Homo sapiens: one gene and its partners. The protein of the gene in region 1 interacts with the protein of each later gene in a biochemical or structural test. Each region holds a gene or a part of one and is shown in the gene's direction. Other genes may lie near its edges.

Region 1 (7,040 bases):
GTAGTAGTCGTGGAAGATGTTTGAACAATGCCATGAGAGGATTATTCTTTATAGAATATTATTCTGACAGCAGTGTACAGATTTGAAGATGAGAGGCTTATTGAGAAAAGGTTTATTAGAAAGTCATTGAAGTTGCCCACAATGATAAGAATATGAACTAGAGAAGTGACTCTGGGCTTATAAAGGAGAGGAGATTTAGAGACTTGACCTCTAATTTATGGATGGAGGAAAATGACAGAGAAGGTCTAACATAATTGTGAAGTTTGAAACATAGGAGATTGAAGAGATATACTTAGTGCCATTAACAGAATTAGGGAACTGAAGAAGAGATGGTTTGGAAGTAAAGGTGTTTTATTTTAGACATACTGAGTTTCAAGTTTTCAGTTATAGTTCTAGATTGTCCACTCTAGAATAGTGTGGTAGAATTTTACCTAGAATAGACAGGTAAAATTAGGACTGGAAATTTAGGAGACTGGACTGGAGAATAACACATTTGAGAATAAGCTGACTACAATTAATATTTAGCCTGAGGAAGTAAAGACCCTCCTCCTAACCCCCCAGGAGAAGAAAGTAGAAAGAGAATATGAGAGATCCAAGAGCAGGCTCTGGAAGGGCTAGCACAAGGAAAGTTGTACACACACACACACACAAACACACACAGCCTGTATAAGGAACGTTACACACACACACACACACACACACACACACGCACACACAGAGTCAGTCAAGAAAAGGAATGGTCAGAGTAAAAAGAAAAAGAAGGTGAAGATAGTGTCCAGTAAAAAAAGCCAAAGAAGAGAGTTTAATGGAGGAGGAGGTATAGTTAAGTATTTCAGGAAGGGTTTATTTATATATCAAGTAAAATTAAAAGGTGCTTTTAGACATATAAAGCAGTACTTAAATCCAAGTTCATGTTGGGCAGAGTGGAGGTATATCAGCCATTACAGTGTAACAAATGCCCATTTCAAAATTGATAGATAGTACTGCCTCGTTTTTCTCAACTCTAAAATAACAGTAATAGTAGTATTTCATTGGGTAATTATAAGGTTGAAACAGGATAACCCATGTGAAGCACTTAGCTGAGGGTCACACACTAGTAAATATTTGTTAAATGTTAGCTTCATTTATAACAATAAATGTTAGCTTCATTTATAACAATAAATGTTATCTGACTGACTGACTCTGGCTGTTTTATAATGGGGGAAAAAACGTTTGTTTCCAGGTTTTTTGTTTGTTTTTTTGTTTCTGTTTTTTGAGGAGGTGGGAGACCTAATGTGGGTGTTGGCAAACTATGGCTGGTGGGCCAAACCTAGCCCATTACCTGTTTTTGTATAGCAAACTGGTTGGAGAAAAAAAATAAAAAAAAGTCATTGTCCCTAAAGTTTTATTGGTTACAGCCACACTCAATCATTTGTGTATTAATATTATCTGTGTTCCACAAAGCCTAGCATTTACAGTGTAGCCCTGTAAACTCACCAATCAATAAGCAGCTGTCTCAGTACCTATCATATTGCACAGAATATTAGAGTTCGCAAACTTTCTTGGTCATTGGAGCCCCTAGTGTTTGGTAGGATTTTTTCACAGTGCCACTGGCAAAAGGAATTGCCTGTTTGTCTCATTAAGTAGTTTGATGGAAATGTGATCAAAATGGCAGTTTGTGCAGTGTCTATGAGATGTCACTGTGCTTCTCTCAAAACTTTAAAATATTCTACAGAGCCCCCGTGATTTTGTTGTGACACTCTGGAGCACTTTGGTGCACATTTTAGGAACTGAGGAATGCTTAGACACTATTGATAGCAATTCATTACTGGAAGTACCAGAGGTATATCTTTATAACAGTTTTGTCCATGAAGTGGCCCTCAAGCATCATCATGGGGGCTTTAACAAGCCCTGTTAACCTGCTAATTATAGCAAATGTTGGCAATAGATATGAAAGAAATGATTTTTAAAAAATTATTAATACCCTATGCTTGTGGCAACTAGTTAGTTGCTGTATTCACCAATCTATATAGTTAACTGTGGTTGAGTATAGAATTTCTAGAAGTGAAGTTGATGAAGTGATCTAAAGATAACAGAGGTTGCATTTTTAGGGTTGTTGGAAAGCCCTTAAAATAGCATAAATATTTGTACATAAAATTAGTTTTTATTATAGTTGAAATAGTTAATGTTTGGTGGGGAAATCAGTAAATTTAAGGCTGTGATGTTAAAAAAAAAAGTATTATAATTGGAAAAATATCAGTTACTAGTTTTTGTTGATTATATTGGACACAAAATTTTTTAACCAGAGTATATACATGGATTAAAAACAAAATTCATGTGCAGTAGTTTGTTCAGTCACATGCTATATTATCTACTCTGTATGCCTTTTAATTGCTTTAGAAGTTTATTAGATTTTTTTCAGATTATCTCATGCTAAAATTAGAACTTGTTCCCAGTGACTTTTAAAGATTGGATCATTACCCAATTATTGGGGTTAATTATAAAATTATTTTCAAATGAAGAAAATATTTTTTGTTCATAACTTCCCTTTTCTGTTTTCATGCTTTCAATCTTTGTCTCTTTACCTGTCTTATTTTAATTGGCTTTAGTATGATTTCATTGCTCCTATCATGCCTGTGGTGGAATCAGTAGATCCTGCATCATGGAGGCAGGGCTTGCGCAAAACTGGCATTGTTCTTGTGCCCAGTAAGGGTGAAAAATCTATGGTGAGGCATTTCTATGTGCAAGAATTTATATTAGGTTACAACATAACAAGTTTAATATAAATTGGTTCCAAAGATGCATGGTTTTAAGTCCTTATGGTGTGCTCATTTCTGTTTTCTGTATTTGCATCATAATTTTTCTGTGTGATATAAAGTGTGTAGTGTGTTTTCTTAAGTCTAACCCCTAGGAAGGTAGTCTATTTCTTTAAAATTTTTAGATCTTTACATTTTTTACTAAGACATTAACCTATGTAGTAAAAGTGTTTTATCCTGAAACTGTAAACCATAATTTTAAATATATTATCTGTAAACTTATTGTTTCCAATTTAAGGACTGATCAGCTTTACAAATTCTTTTTTCTTTTCCTAAAAAATAAAATAAACACAGTTTCCAACCACAGCTACAAAAATTTCTCCCAAAGAAGAAGAGAGAAAAGATGAGTCTCCTGCAACTTGGAGGTTAGGACTTAGAAAGACGGGCAGCTATGGTGCACTTGCTGAAATCACAGCATCTAAAGAGGGTCAGAAAGAAAAAGATACTGCAGGTGTTACACGTTCAGCTTCAAGTCCCAGACTTTCCTCCTCTTTGGATAATAAAGAAAAGGTAATCTATTTCACAGTCTGGTTTCTATGAAAACTGTTATGATTTCTTTTCCAGGAACATCAAATCTGGTAGATTTTCTGCTAGTTATCTTTAGATCTAGGTATCAAGTTAATTAACCTTAATGAATTACATAAGACAAATGTAATTTATACAGAATTATAAATACTGGAAAGATCAGATGTATTTGCCTAAAACATAAATTATGGGACTATACTCCGTTAAAGGAATCTATTACCTTACTTGAGAATTTATAATAGAACTGTATTAAGGAGCAGGCTTATTTTGTTTATTATGATTCAAGAAACTTTCTGAAGTTTAAAAAACATAGGAACACATTTATTCTAGAATGTTAGTATACTCATAAGTTACATTTATTCAGTATCTGAAAAAAAATACCAGATTTTTCATCTACCATATTACAAGCAACTTTGTCTTAATGAGTAAATTTAATAACTATTTTGAGAGGTGGTATTAATACTGCATTATATAGGATGTACCACAGTTTATTCAATACTAGTATTTATTTCTACAGCATATTCAGTGCTTGAACTATTTTTTTTGCCCATACAGTTTTCTTTCTATACTTAGAAATGTTTCCTTATATCAGAAATTCAGATGAAATTTCTCATCAAGTAATTCTAATATTTTTGCTTTTTTATCAGTTTACTGTGCAGTTGGTTTCCAGGTATTTTATGCCAGCTTACTAGGAATGTATCAGAGTGTCATTGTCACTACACACTCTTAGCCATATTTGGATAAATATAATTTAAATAATATTTGTTTTGACTATTTTGATGTATTTGAGAGCATTGATTATCAAGGTTCTAAATAGCTTATATAATATAAATGCTTGAGACCTCTCAGTGAACAATATTTGAAAGTTTATTTCTCTGGAAGAAATAAAGATATTTCAGCTTATGACACAGTATTAATCTGTTAGAGAAGTTTTAGAAAAAGTCATTAAAATCTGGAGAAATTTTTTTCCTTTCTTAGTAAAATATTATCTGATTCCAGGCTAAAAGAGAAAGAAAACTAATTTGAACAGGCTGATTATTGATTGACATTAATTTTAGAGTTCAGCTAGGAATTGTTGAAATACTGTAAACTATGATAGCTATGTAATTATAATTATTGAATAACCTTTTCTTAATACTTTTAGCATTGCCTATAGTCAGTACCCAAATTAATTTTTACTTATTTTTTTCCCTGTTGTGTAGGAGAAAGATAGTAAAGGAACTAGGCTTGCATATGTTGCACCTACAATACCAAGACGACTAGCCAGTACATCTGACATTGAAGAGAAAGAAAACAGGTGAGTTTATTTTGATTTGCTTTATGCATTCACTATAAAATCTTTATTATCTAGCATTAGAGTTAATACATGAGCATTGTAATTATGTGCGGATATGTATTGTGGGAAGAGATGGAGGATATTCCTGAAGGAGAAAATACCAGGTACATAGTCCTGAGGAGGTGCAGGCTTGGTATGTTCATGAAATAATAGCAAAGAAGATGTGGCTGGAACAGAGTAAGGGGAAAGTGGGAGGAGATAAGGTCATGAACTAGTATGAGTTCTCTAAATATTTGGAACATTTAGGAAAGGGGAAAGAAGAAGGAAAGCCCTTACTTAATCATTTTAGTTTGTTTTAAATATTTTTGTTTAAATATTGTTTAAATATTTTAGTTTCTTCCTGTTTTTCAGCTTATAGAATTTTATTTTTTTAATTTAATTATTTTTATTTTTATTTTTATTTTTTTTGAGACAGAGTCTCGCTCTGTCACCCACGCTGGAGTGCAGTGGCGCAATCTCGGCTCACTGCAACCTCCACCTCTCAGGTTCAAGTAGTTCTCTGCCTCAGCCTCTCAAGTGGCTGGGATTACAGGCACCTGCCACCCTGCTCAGCTAATTTTTTTATTTTTAGTAGAGACAGGGTTTCACCATCTTGGCCAGGCTGGTCTTGAACTCTTGACCTTGTGATCCACCTGTCTCGGCCTCTCAAAGTGCTGGGTTACAGGTGTGAACCACTGCACCCGGCCAATAACTTTTTAATATACTTTTAATCATGTTATAATATCTAATTTTTTTATTTTTTTCCCCTAAGATCTCATAAGCAGTCTTCTATGTTAATATATATTTTTAATAAGCATTTTTTTTGTCGGCACATAACATACTATAAAGTAGATCTTCTGCGGTTAAAGTAAGCATCTCCCCTACTTTATATTTTGTGATCAAAAAGCATATTTCTATAAATATCTGAATTTTCCCCCATACTTAGGGGAAAAATTATACCTTAGGGTATATAATCTTAGTACTGAAATTACTTTATCTTCTTGATTAGTATTCCTAAGTGTCCTCCCAAAGGTTTTTACTAGTTTCAGCTTATACTAATATTTACTAGTGTACCGCTTTCTTAATCCTATTTTAAAATTATGTACCAGAATCTGAAGGGTGTTCTTTTAACAGAGATTCTTCAAGTTTGCGAACAAGTAGTTCATATACAAGGAGAAAATGGGAAGATGATCTTAAAAAAAATAGCTCAGTTAATGAAGGATCAACGTATCATAAAAGGTAATAATACTATTCTTAAGCGGTTTTTATGTATTCATTTATAAAAATATGAGGCAATTTGTTTGGAGCCCTCAGTTTAACATCATTTTAAACAAATATGTGTTTTTATTAAATACGAGTTTTTGTTGTTTAAAACTTACTCTAAACACAGGATATATATTTAAAGATAGGTGATAATTTGTTATGCCTATTATATAATTAAGCTTCAAATATTATGAAATGTTTTTTGGATTGTTACATATTTAAAAGGAACTCCTTTAGAAGGAACTCCTTGACTAGAACAACTTAAACAGGCCAGTGTCTTAATGGATCTAGTTGTCATTGTTGATCTGGAAAGATTTGGCTTGCCCTAGAACTCAGAGCTATGGAAATGCCTTCAGTTGGAATGTTGGTAGTATCATATTGAAGAGGAAAAAAAAGCCCTATAAACAATTTCTTTACTAAAAGCAACCAAAAAGAATAAGATGTGAACAAGTATCATGTAGGCATTGGTTACTTCCGAGGTATCTGACCCATTGCTGAAATAATTTCCTTCAAAAAAATGTCAACGTCTTGTTTTCCCTGGGTAATACAAAACCAAAGTGTGTTTTTCAGGCTCAGCCTGGCATGACCATATGGTGTGGAATAGTTTCAAAAATATGAAATATCAGATCATCTTTGTCTTGTTGAGAAAGTTGGGAGGAGGCACTAAAATGATACACTACCGAATTAAGTGAAATCTTCTAAACTCTAGCAAGTTGTAGATGCAACTCTTGGTGCTGGAGCTGGTGGTGTATTTAGGAACACAGTTTTTAAATTTTTTTTCTAGCCTTGTAATTTATATAATGTATAGACATTAACTATAGAATACACATACAAACACATCCTATATAGATATGACTCTTTTGTTTAGTTGCTCCTTTGGTAGAAGACAAGATGATTTGATTAGTTCTAGTGTTCCAAGCACCACATCAACACCAACAGTTACCTCTGCAGCTGGGCTTCAGAAAAGCCTGCTTTCCAGCACAAGCACTACTACAAAGATTACAACGGGTTCTTCCTCAGCAGGCACACAAAGCAGGTAAGTCACAGATACATTTTGTGCTCAGGTCTACTGTGTGCTTATGTATGTGCATGCGTTTTTGTTTAGAAGATTGTGGGGCTCTGGATTTTTTCATTTATCTTGT
Region 2 (6,752 bases), on another chromosome or scaffold:
CCATCAATCCATGGCAGGCCTTGGCTTGCAGCTGAATCCCTCCAGTCTGCCTCTGTCATCACACACTTCCTCGGATGTCTGTGTCTTTGCATGGTGTTGTCCTTGTGTAAGGACACTAGTCATCTAGGATGAGGGCCTGCTCTAATTCGTCTTAACTTGAATATACCTGCAAAGACTCAAATTCTGAATAAGGTCCCACTCACAGGTACAGGATAAGGACTTCAGCATGTCTTTTGGGGGGACATAATTCAACCAGTAACACCTACCGTGTACCACACGCCAAGACTACCAAACGAGGCACAGTCCCCACCTTCGAGGAACCTATAACTAACACTACCATTTAACTGCAATAAGACAGGAGAGGCAGCACACAGGAAAATGATCCTTTCTGTAGGAGCACAAAGGCATTTTAGGAAATGAAATTTGAGGTTTTAAAAGATAAGTAGGAATTCATCAAATAGAAGAAAAAAGATGAAAATAGCAAAAGGTATAAAATAGTATTAATCTTGCAAAAAGACACTGAAGTGTTCTATCTTGATCTTTTTTTTTTTTTTTAATAAGGCAGTTGTCTCTTCTCTGTCACCCAGGCTGGAGTGCAGTGGCACTGTCATAGCTCACTGTAGCCTTGAACTGCCGGGCTCAAGCGATCCTCCCACCTCAGGCTCCCGAGTAGCTAGGACTTCAGGTGTGCGCCACCGTGCCAGGCTTTTTTTTTTTTTTTTTTTTGGAGAGACAGGGTCTCACTTTATTGCCAAAGCTGGTCTTAAACTACTGGACTCAAGCAGTCCTCCCACCTTGGCCTCCCAAAGTGCTGGGATTATAGGCCTGAGCCATCATGCCCAGCCTCTCCCTTTATATGGTAGATCCAGATCTCTGAAACAGTTCTATGTCTGGAACACTTTGTGGAAAGCAAGTTCACGAGTAAGACTAGGGGTCAATACCTATTCAGTCCTCTATTTCACATCCTAAAGCAAAATATATATCTACAGCTTTACCTACAATACAATACAATACAATACAGTAATTGATGTCCATAACGATAAGTCATCCACACTAAATTAGGCTCAGTATACCCTCTAAGTACATTAGGAAGCATGTAATACATTTTTTAGGATCTTTGAAAATGACTTAAATGAATAGTTTTGCTACTGAGGATTAATCTCCATTTTTCTGGAAAATCCAGTTATACAAAACTGCTAATTTCTTTACAGTGCTAGATAACAGCAGCTAATGTTCATTTACTTCTTACTCTGCACAAAGCTGTGTTCTAAGTCCTTGGCAAATGCTCACTCATTTGTGAGCCTCATTTAATCCTCACTCTGATGTACATACTATTGCTATCACCATTTTAAAGGTGAAAAGGCTGAGTCCCAGAGAGATTAAATAACTTGCTTAGCTTTACACATCTAATAAGTGGCAGAGCCAGGACTGAAGCCCAGGCAGTGGTGCTCCAGAGCCCATGCTCCAGACTTCGGTGATACCCTATCTCTGGACTCCTTTAGATACATGAATGGTTATTATCTACATGGCATTTGTGCAGTAACCACTCAGATTTTGTTTAGACAGAGGAATAATCAAAGTGACAGTTGGTAAAAGTCTGATTTCTATCTATTGGTAACATGCTCCATTTCTCAGATGTGGATCTTGGAACCTAAAGAGGTCAATAAGAAGACTCTGCCTATCTTGATGCTTAGAGGTGTTCAGAATTCCTCCCAACAAAGAAATAAGCACACCTTGCTCTCAGTTGATTAAATCAAAAATATTTATTAATCTTCGTGTGCAAGGCACTGTGCTAGGCATTAGAGTTGTAAATAGAAGGCAGAAAGAGCAAGTCTTTAGTTGTAACTAGGGATGGAATGAAATGTACAAACTTCAAAACTGTATTTCCCTTTCAGCTGCTATGGAGGACTTGGGAGATCTTGTCTTGGTAAGAAATATATTTCTATTATTTTTTTAACCGCCAAATAGACAAACTTCTGTTTCCAGACCATATGTTCATTTTGTATTAAAATGGAACCAAGCAAAATATAAGTTTGCTAAGACTCAAAGGATTACTTAAGGCCCTAAACATGGTGTTCCCTGGAAAGCTTGGGTGGGAGTGGGAGGTATTTTCAGCATTGTTCTGGAGGATTCTGGCAAAACATCATTTACAAGTCTTAACACCTGCATTCTTATTTTTTAACATTTTTTGATGTTCTTCCTGTGGAGGTGTTATAATAGAGTAACTTCCAAATAGTTTCCATGGGTAACTATTTATGAATACCAAAGTTAATTACTATATGTTAATTTAAAAAATGTTTTAATGTACTAAGAAAAACAAAAAAGAGTTCGTGAAATGCCACACTGGAGTAGTAGTTATTTTTTTAGTGTTGGATGATATCAAAATTGAAAGCTTTTGTGTTTCAAAGAATACTATCAAAATGACAAGACTACCCATAGAATGGGAAAAAATATTTGCAATCTATATATTTGATAAGGGATTTGTATCCAGAATATAAAAAGAACTCTTACAACTCAGTAATAAAGATAGGCCGGGCGTCGTGGCTCATGCCTGTAATCTCAGCACTTTGGGAGGCCAAGGCAGAAAGATCACCTGAGTTTAGGAGTTTGAGAACAGCATGAGCAACATGGTGAAACCCCATCTCTACAAGAAATACAAAAATTAGCCAGGCATAGTGGTGCATGCCTGTAGTCCCAGCTCCTTGTGGGACTGAGGCTGGAGGACTGCCTGGGCCCAGGAGGTCAAGGCACCAGTGAACCGAGTTTACACCACTGCACTCCAGCCTAGATGACAAAGTGAGATCGTCTCTCTCAAAAGAAAAAATAATAATAATAAACAAACAACATAACTGAAAAATGGGCAAAGTATCCGAATAAACCTTTCTACATGCAAGATACACATATAGTCAGTAAGCACATGAGAAGATGCTCAACATCATCAGTCATCAGGAAATGCAAATCAGAACCACAGTGGATACCACTTGACACCAATTAGGAAGGGTATTATAAAAACATGAAAAATAACAAGTATTGGCAAGGATGTAGAGAAATTCGAACCCTCATACACTGTTGGTGGGAATGTAAAATGGTGCAGCGGCTTTGGAAAATAGTCTAGCAGTAGTTCTTCAAACAAGTAAACATTAACATATGACCCAGCAATTTCACTCCAAAGTATATACCCAAAGACTTGTATACAAATGTTTATAGCAGCATTAATCATAATAGCCAAAAAATGGAAACAGCCTAAATGTCCATCAGTTGACGAACAGATAAACACAATGTGGCATATCTATACAATGGAATATTATTTGATCATAAAAAGGAATTAAATACAGACATATGCTACAATATGTATGAACCCTGAACACATTATGCTAAGAGAAGTCAGACACACACAAAAAAATATTGTATGTTTCCGTTTATGTGATTGCTCAGAATAGGCAGATCTACAGAGACAAAGTACACTAGTGGTTGCCTATGGCAGGGGTTGATGGGGAATAGAGGATGACAGCAAAAGGGTACACTTCTTTCTGAGGTGATGAAGTGCTTTAAAATTGACTGTGGTGATGGTTGCACATATCTGTAAATATACTAAATCACTGAATGGATGAACACTTTAAATGGATGAAAGAATGAAGCCAGTGTTAAACTCTAATTCAACCATACGGTCATTTAAGATCATAATTTAACTGTCAAAAACACACACTAAAAGTCTCAGTCTTTTAATTCATTTGGAACAATTACACCAGTCTTCTGTATCAACAGAAGTCTTATTAAATATAAAATGCTGTACCCTGTCACTAGTTATTTAATAACATATTATTTTTCTGTCATGTTCCATTAGTAGCTGCTTGTCTCCTACTATACCTGTCTGACACAATATCACCAGAGCAAGCCATAGACAGCCTGCGAGACCTAAGAGGATCCGGGGCAATACAGACCATCAAGGTGAGGAGGTGGGCGGTGCTTGCTTGGTTGTGGTTGGGGTCGTTGTTACAAATACAGATTCATGTGTAACCAAAAGGTTACATATGAAAATCCAAAAGGGCAGTGAAATGAAAATCCAAAGCACTCTGTTATTCAAATACCACTTGCTTATGCTTTTAGTTTTTAAAAATTTACAAGTAAATATAATCCAGGTAGTCTAAAAAAGCACACAGGATTTCAAACAAGATAATGAAAATTTGAACTTCCTGGTTTACTTTTCCAGGATCTACCTACTTCTCAGTTTTTGCCCCAGTCCGTTTTGGGAATGGATCCTCTCACCTAGGACAATGAGATGGTTATTGTTAATACAAACTTGGTACGTTCTTGGGTAGATTCTTGGCCAAAAAAAATCTATGGAAGATCTTGTTATATCACCAAAACATTTAATAAAGACAGATGAATGACTATAATACAAAAAATGGAAAGCAGTGCTAATTATCCTTTGCAGTAGATAACTGGGGACATCTTCCACATGTACATTCCCCTAACACTTCAAAACACTGCACTAGCAATGCCAAGGATATTGCATTAATCATGTTACTGAAAAGATTCTGCAGATGTCACTTCATTTTGTAGATCTGTAAAGCTAATGTGCCTTCTTTTCAGAAGCGTGCCCTCTCAGCATTAGAATCCGCTCATCAGAGGAGTGGGCACCAAAGAATCCTGGCTGTTAGGCAGCTCCCTAGACTTGAGAGCCCATCTTCCCAGGGTTGGAGGTCTAATCCAGTGTCATTAACAGTGAATTATCATAATTACTGATAAATTCACCAAGCAACCTGATTCTTAGGGCTTAAATAAGGTCATTAACGGGACAATCCATACAAGATCCACTCCACTGTACAGGTCTGAAACAGACAACTCTCTTTATGTTAAAAATCAAACGATGCGGCCAGGCGCGGTGGCTCATGCCTATATCCTAGCACTTTGGGAGGCTGAGCTGGGTGGATCACTTAAGGCCAGGAGTTGGAGACCAGCCTGGCCAACATAACGAAACCTTGTCCCTACTAAAAATACAAAAATTAGCCAGGGTGGTTATGTGTGCCTGTAGTCCCAGCTACTTGGGAGCCTGAGGCACAAAAATCACTTGAACCTGGGAGGCAGAGGTTGCAGTGAACCGAGATCACACCACTGCACTCCAGCCTGGGCGACAAAGTGAGACCCTGTCTCAAAAAAAAAAAAAAATCAAATGATGCTTCAAATCCAAAAAGTTCACCTCTCTTCTCTTGAAAACAAACTACATGGCCATGGCCAGATGTATATATGAATATCCATATGTTTTACATCTTTAACATTGCAGATAATTAAGTCCATATTACTACAGACTCAGTTTATCACCTCAGCATTCTGTGGCAAACAGGCTTGCTGGTGTTAGCAATGCAGTTTCCACATCTCAATAAGGATATGAAATGAGATGATTGGCAGAGTAAGAATATCTTTTGGGAGGCTATTAAAACTCCAAATAAATTATTTAAAGCTTTTATTTTGCTTATCTGCTGAGATTAGCAATACAGTTTGTTTTTAAAAAATATTGTCTATGAAAATTATCCCTAGTGCATTATGTCATCACAAAAAAGCAGAAGACTAGGGCTTCTATAAATTGAGAAATGGATTTTGTTAAATATACCAGTTACTTGCTACAGAAAGTGCTCTGTCCTTCTTACCAGGGGGGAAAAATGTTAGCAAAAATAATGCCATTATGTACTGTTTTAATCTTATTTGGTCCTGTAAGTAAAGAGAGAAAGAATTTTAGACTTAAAACATATCCATCTACATTTCATTTCACCTTCTGATTTTTAGAGACTTGTAGAACAATAGTTTTTCACACTATATGGCTTTACTAAAAGATAAAACTTCCCCATGATGCAAATGCTTCCTTACCCAAAAAGATGTAGAATTGTGCTTAGCAAGTATTTTTTTTTATTCCTGATACCTGCTAATATTGTGCCCACACTGATAACTAGTTTTCTACAGTGTATTCCAATGTATCTTTACTTTTTTCAGCAATACAATTATCTTCATGAGTTTCGGGACAAATTAGCTGCACATCTATCATCAAGAGATTCACAATCAAGATCTGTATCAAGATAAAGGAATTCAAATAGCATATATATGACCATGTCTGAAATGTCAGTTCTCTAGCATAATTTGTATTGAAATGAAACCACCAGTGTTATCAACTTGAATGTAAATGTACATGTGCAGATATTCCTAAAGTTTTATTGACAAAACTCGTTGTGTCTCTTTCATTTCTTATAGGAATAGGAAAATTGGGATAGGAAAATTGGTATGCAATTTTCCTTTTAGAAATGAATTGGTTGTTCTGGTATATTCTACCTGGAGGTAATGCTGAAAACATGCATTTGGAAAAATATTTGAATGCCTATTTTTAATACTTAGTACTGCACTTTTACTTCATTTTACTGTTTGTAACCACTGGGTAGCATATGACAAAGTAGTAAGTATGAGAATTGGTATGAGTGCCCAAACTTACTTTTAAATGATGTCCCCCTCCCTCTCTATTCCTCCCAAAACTTCTTCCGCTTTTTACTTCATAGACCTCCGGAATTGAAAAGGATCCTGTGAGTCTTCCACTCGCCCCCTCCCAGTACTGGATCAGCCCCAAGGGTGTTTATTCACTATGGGCTGGAACATTTTCAGAGACAAGGAATTCACTGGTTCAGACAGCTGCTCCACCTTTTGTCCGCCCTAGGAACTACACGGAATGAGCTTAATCCTTTCACATTTATTTCATAAAGAATTTAGCT
Region 3 (3,404 bases), on another chromosome or scaffold:
CAGTTGACTATTATTAGCTGTCATAAGTAACTCAGCCATTTGGAAGCATTTCCTGGACAAAATTACATTATACCTGTGAAGAAAAATATAGAAGCTTTCAAGCTGTCATTCTGTTTTGGCCCTGTGTGAATTTGGTATATTAAATTGACGCTTGCTTTTTTTTTCAGTAGAGTTTTCTTTTTAATCAATCAAACGCCTACATTTCTGGAAGAAAAAGTCCAATTAGATCATTACACCTTAACTAAGAAGGCAAATCTTATAAATTTTGCTTGAATTGTTCTTACTCAAAACTACCTTAGAATATGGTATCTTATGAAAATATAATATTCTTAAAATTTTGGAGGATAAAATGAAAAGGGTATAAACTTCAATTAGAACTTTAATCCTAAAATATTGTTATTCTTGTATTTTTGGAGTTTTCCGTCCCTTACAATTTCTCCAAATTGGTCTATTCCCCAAGATATCCACTGTTTTCTACAGATTTTAGAATATAAAATTAAACATATCAACCTAAAATCTAGCTATGAATGTTATTTCAAGAGTTTTATATTTTTAATTGGCTTTTTAAAAATATGTAATTCCAATATTATAGTGAATGTTCAGTAACTTTTGTTGAAAGATAATGTGGTTTAGGCTTGCTAAAGAAAGGCTTGCTAGAATACTAAATTTACCTTGTTATTTGGAAAGAGAATCTGCTCCTATAACGTTTTAAAAATCCCCAAAGTCCCAGAGATTAGCACTTGCTATGGATTTTGGAACTATGGTTCAAGTCTAAGACAACCAATATGAATAAGTTCAATGGAGAAGGAAGAAGTAGCATTCAGCACAAGAAACTGTAGATTGTTTCTCCCACTTGTTACTGCATCTTTGTTCATTTCACCCATAGCATTGCATTTGATGTCTGAAGTAATTACCACAAAATAAAGGTAAACTACATCTTCCAAGATGTACCAACAGAAAACATTCGTCTAATTTTGTCAACATTGAATTTTTAGGATTTAAATCTTGTCTTAATGAAGACTCTAGGGCTAAAATTCATGGTCAGTTCCATAAAATGCATCTCACTTTATTTCTGAATTTTTCACAACCCCTCTATTTTCTTACATTAAAGAACATCTGGATAAGTTAGAATAGTGCCAACTTGTTTGATTTGTTATATGATTTTCTTGTTAATGTGTTGAGTATGGGAAATAAGGGCTTTCTGTGTGTCTTGACTCACAGGAAAACTGAAACTGCCAAGGGAAGCAACATTAAAACAACTGGGATAGATTGAATACATTTGAAAAAATAATTTCTGGAAAAACGCTATACATGCTTTTTATGTTTATATCTTCTTTCTTATTAAGACATGAATCAGATCCATGTGGCATTCAAAACAAATTTATTTTGGTTATATTCTTTACAAGTCATAATTTTTACCTAAAATTGTGGAATATGCATGTGAATTACACATGTGTAGTAATAAACTCAACTATTGAATTTTTCCTGTTTCATTTCTAAATGACTGAACTGATGGTAAACAAATTTAATGAAGTCAGCTACCATGTTGAAAATAAGGATATTAGAACTGATTTCATACAATAGAGGTGATCTGTGCATTATCCATAACAACGTTTTCTTTCACTATAGGACCACAGACAAATATTTATGTAAATAGGTATTTTTGTGTGATATTTTGTGGTACATATAACTTTTTTTAGTGTTTCACAGCATTATTATTTCATTTTATTTGTATTGAATAATGTTTTTAGGTCCAAGTAGACTTGAATTAATGTCATAATTGTCAGTATTATTGAAAATTATGTCAACTGTACTGTTATTCATCTGTCCCATAGTTTAGAACATGACCTGGCTATCTGGCATTGTTGCAAGTGCCTTAAATTCATGGCATCCTATTAAAAAAACAAATTTGGTGTTATGCTGCATGACAAAGACAAACACACCTCAAAATGTTGTCCTTTCTTAGCTTGCTGCGTTTTACAGTTCTTTCTGCTAACAATTTATAAGCCTTTATTATATAATATTGATGAATTACAGAAATGATGAAGTTGTTCTCTTATTTCTGTTAAATGTACCAGAGCTGTGTATCTGTTAATGAGATACAGCGTCATTTCTGTGAAATGTATAAATGTATGTGCAGGTCAAATTAATATATGACATTCTATCAGTCTGTATACAGGTATTCCTGTTTTGCTAAGCTGTGCAGATTCTGTAAAAATAAATTAGTGCAGTCAAGTTCTAACATATCTCATTTTATAGACTCCATTGACAATGGTCCAACCGAAAAGAAAAATTGGAAATGACTGCTAACCAGACCTCGTTATGAAACCAATGATGAAAAAGTCACTTGGTGCACCTCTCAACAAAACAGGATGCTTTTTCCGAGTTCTTGTATATGCAAATCATTTACGAGGCAAGTTTTCAACAGACCTAGAAAGCAAAACATTGAAAGTGTGTTGTTAGCCCTCCTCTCTGCCCCTGAATCAACAGACAGAGCTCTGGGACCTTGGCAATGACTCAGAGGTTGGGGCTTTCTGAGTAAAGGGACATTTCTTTAAGCATCATCTATCAAATTTATTTCAATGTATGATGTTTTTACAACTGGTCAGTTCTTTTGTATTCTTACAGCTATGGTTATTTGATTGTCCTCTTACAATTTGTTCTACATGAAAGAGTTCTTTGTTAGTCAGAATGCAACAAACTGTCATCAAATGGTCATTGACCACTTGCACTCTTTTGATGTAGATTAAAAACTTTTTCATAAATTTACCTGCTTTGATTTGCTCTGTATTTTTCCTGCAGCTGTAATTGCTGAGTGCCTGTTGTATACTTTATAGAGTTGAAATAAAAAAATAATTACTTTTGAACTTAGTTGATGTTTAATTCCAGACAAGATTCCAAGAATAGAATTGGTATATCATACTAGATGAAATACCAGGTAGTGCTGTTGTAGAATGTCACTATAACAAAGTAGGAAATACCTATAATCCAAGCATCCCTCATGAAATAATATACTATATTATAATCTAATATAAAACTAATCCAACAAATTGGTTTTAAAGAATTCATAGGAATAATGTTGGGCCATCCAGTGTGAAAAGCAAAGTGAATATAGATATTCACACAAACTCAGAAATTAGCAGATTTCTGAGCATGACCACCACACAGTCCTTTTTTGGGCTATCCCTAGTCAAACTCTGTACTAGGCAAAACAATCAAAGGGACAATTCTTGTATATTACTACATCCTAGGAGGAAATGATTTCATATGAAAAGCAACTTCATGAGTCTTTGTCCAAGGATTTTTCACCTGATTCCTTGGCTTCATCATATGCACAAAGAAGAAACATTTGGGGAACAATATGATTACAACAAATTCAACTCTCCAAAGCCTAGTTAAACATA

The links.
Region 2: of the proteins of PPP1R12A (region 1) and CDKN3, one has a biochemical effect on the other in vitro, tested with the Homo sapiens proteins (one study listed by BioGRID).
Region 3: the proteins of PPP1R12A (region 1) and PRKG1 form a complex in vitro, tested with the Homo sapiens proteins (one study listed by BioGRID).

The regions. Positions count from the first base shown.
Region 1 is NC_000012.12:79,806,060-79,813,099, reverse strand, and holds part of PPP1R12A (protein phosphatase 1 regulatory subunit 12A), read left to right. Parts: intron 1-3,089; coding exon 3,090-3,305; intron 3,306-4,522; coding exon 4,523-4,617; intron 4,618-5,769; coding exon 5,770-5,874; intron 5,875-6,766; coding exon 6,767-6,934; intron 6,935-7,040. UniProt on the Homo sapiens protein: Key regulator of protein phosphatase 1C (PPP1C). Mediates binding to myosin. As part of the PPP1C complex, involved in dephosphorylation of PLK1. Capable of inhibiting HIF1AN-dependent suppression of HIF1A activity.
Region 2 is NC_000014.9:54,414,004-54,420,755, forward strand, and holds the end of CDKN3 (cyclin-dependent kinase inhibitor 3), read left to right. Parts: intron 1-1,895; coding exon 1,896-1,927; intron 1,928-3,844; coding exon 3,845-3,948; intron 3,949-4,210; coding exon of another isoform or gene 4,211-4,270; exon of another isoform or gene 4,271-4,303; intron 4,304-5,988; coding exon 5,989-6,075; 3' UTR 6,076-6,215; downstream 6,216-6,752. UniProt on the Homo sapiens protein: May play a role in cell cycle regulation. Dual specificity CC phosphatase active toward substrates containing either phosphotyrosine or phosphoserine residues. Dephosphorylates CDK2 at 'Thr-160' in a cyclin-dependent manner.
Region 3 is NC_000010.11:52,295,484-52,298,887, forward strand, and holds the end of PRKG1 (cGMP-dependent protein kinase 1), read left to right. Parts: 3' UTR 1-2,867; downstream 2,868-3,404. UniProt on the Homo sapiens protein: Serine/threonine protein kinase that acts as a key mediator of the nitric oxide (NO)/cGMP signaling pathway. GMP binding activates PRKG1, which phosphorylates serines and threonines on many cellular proteins.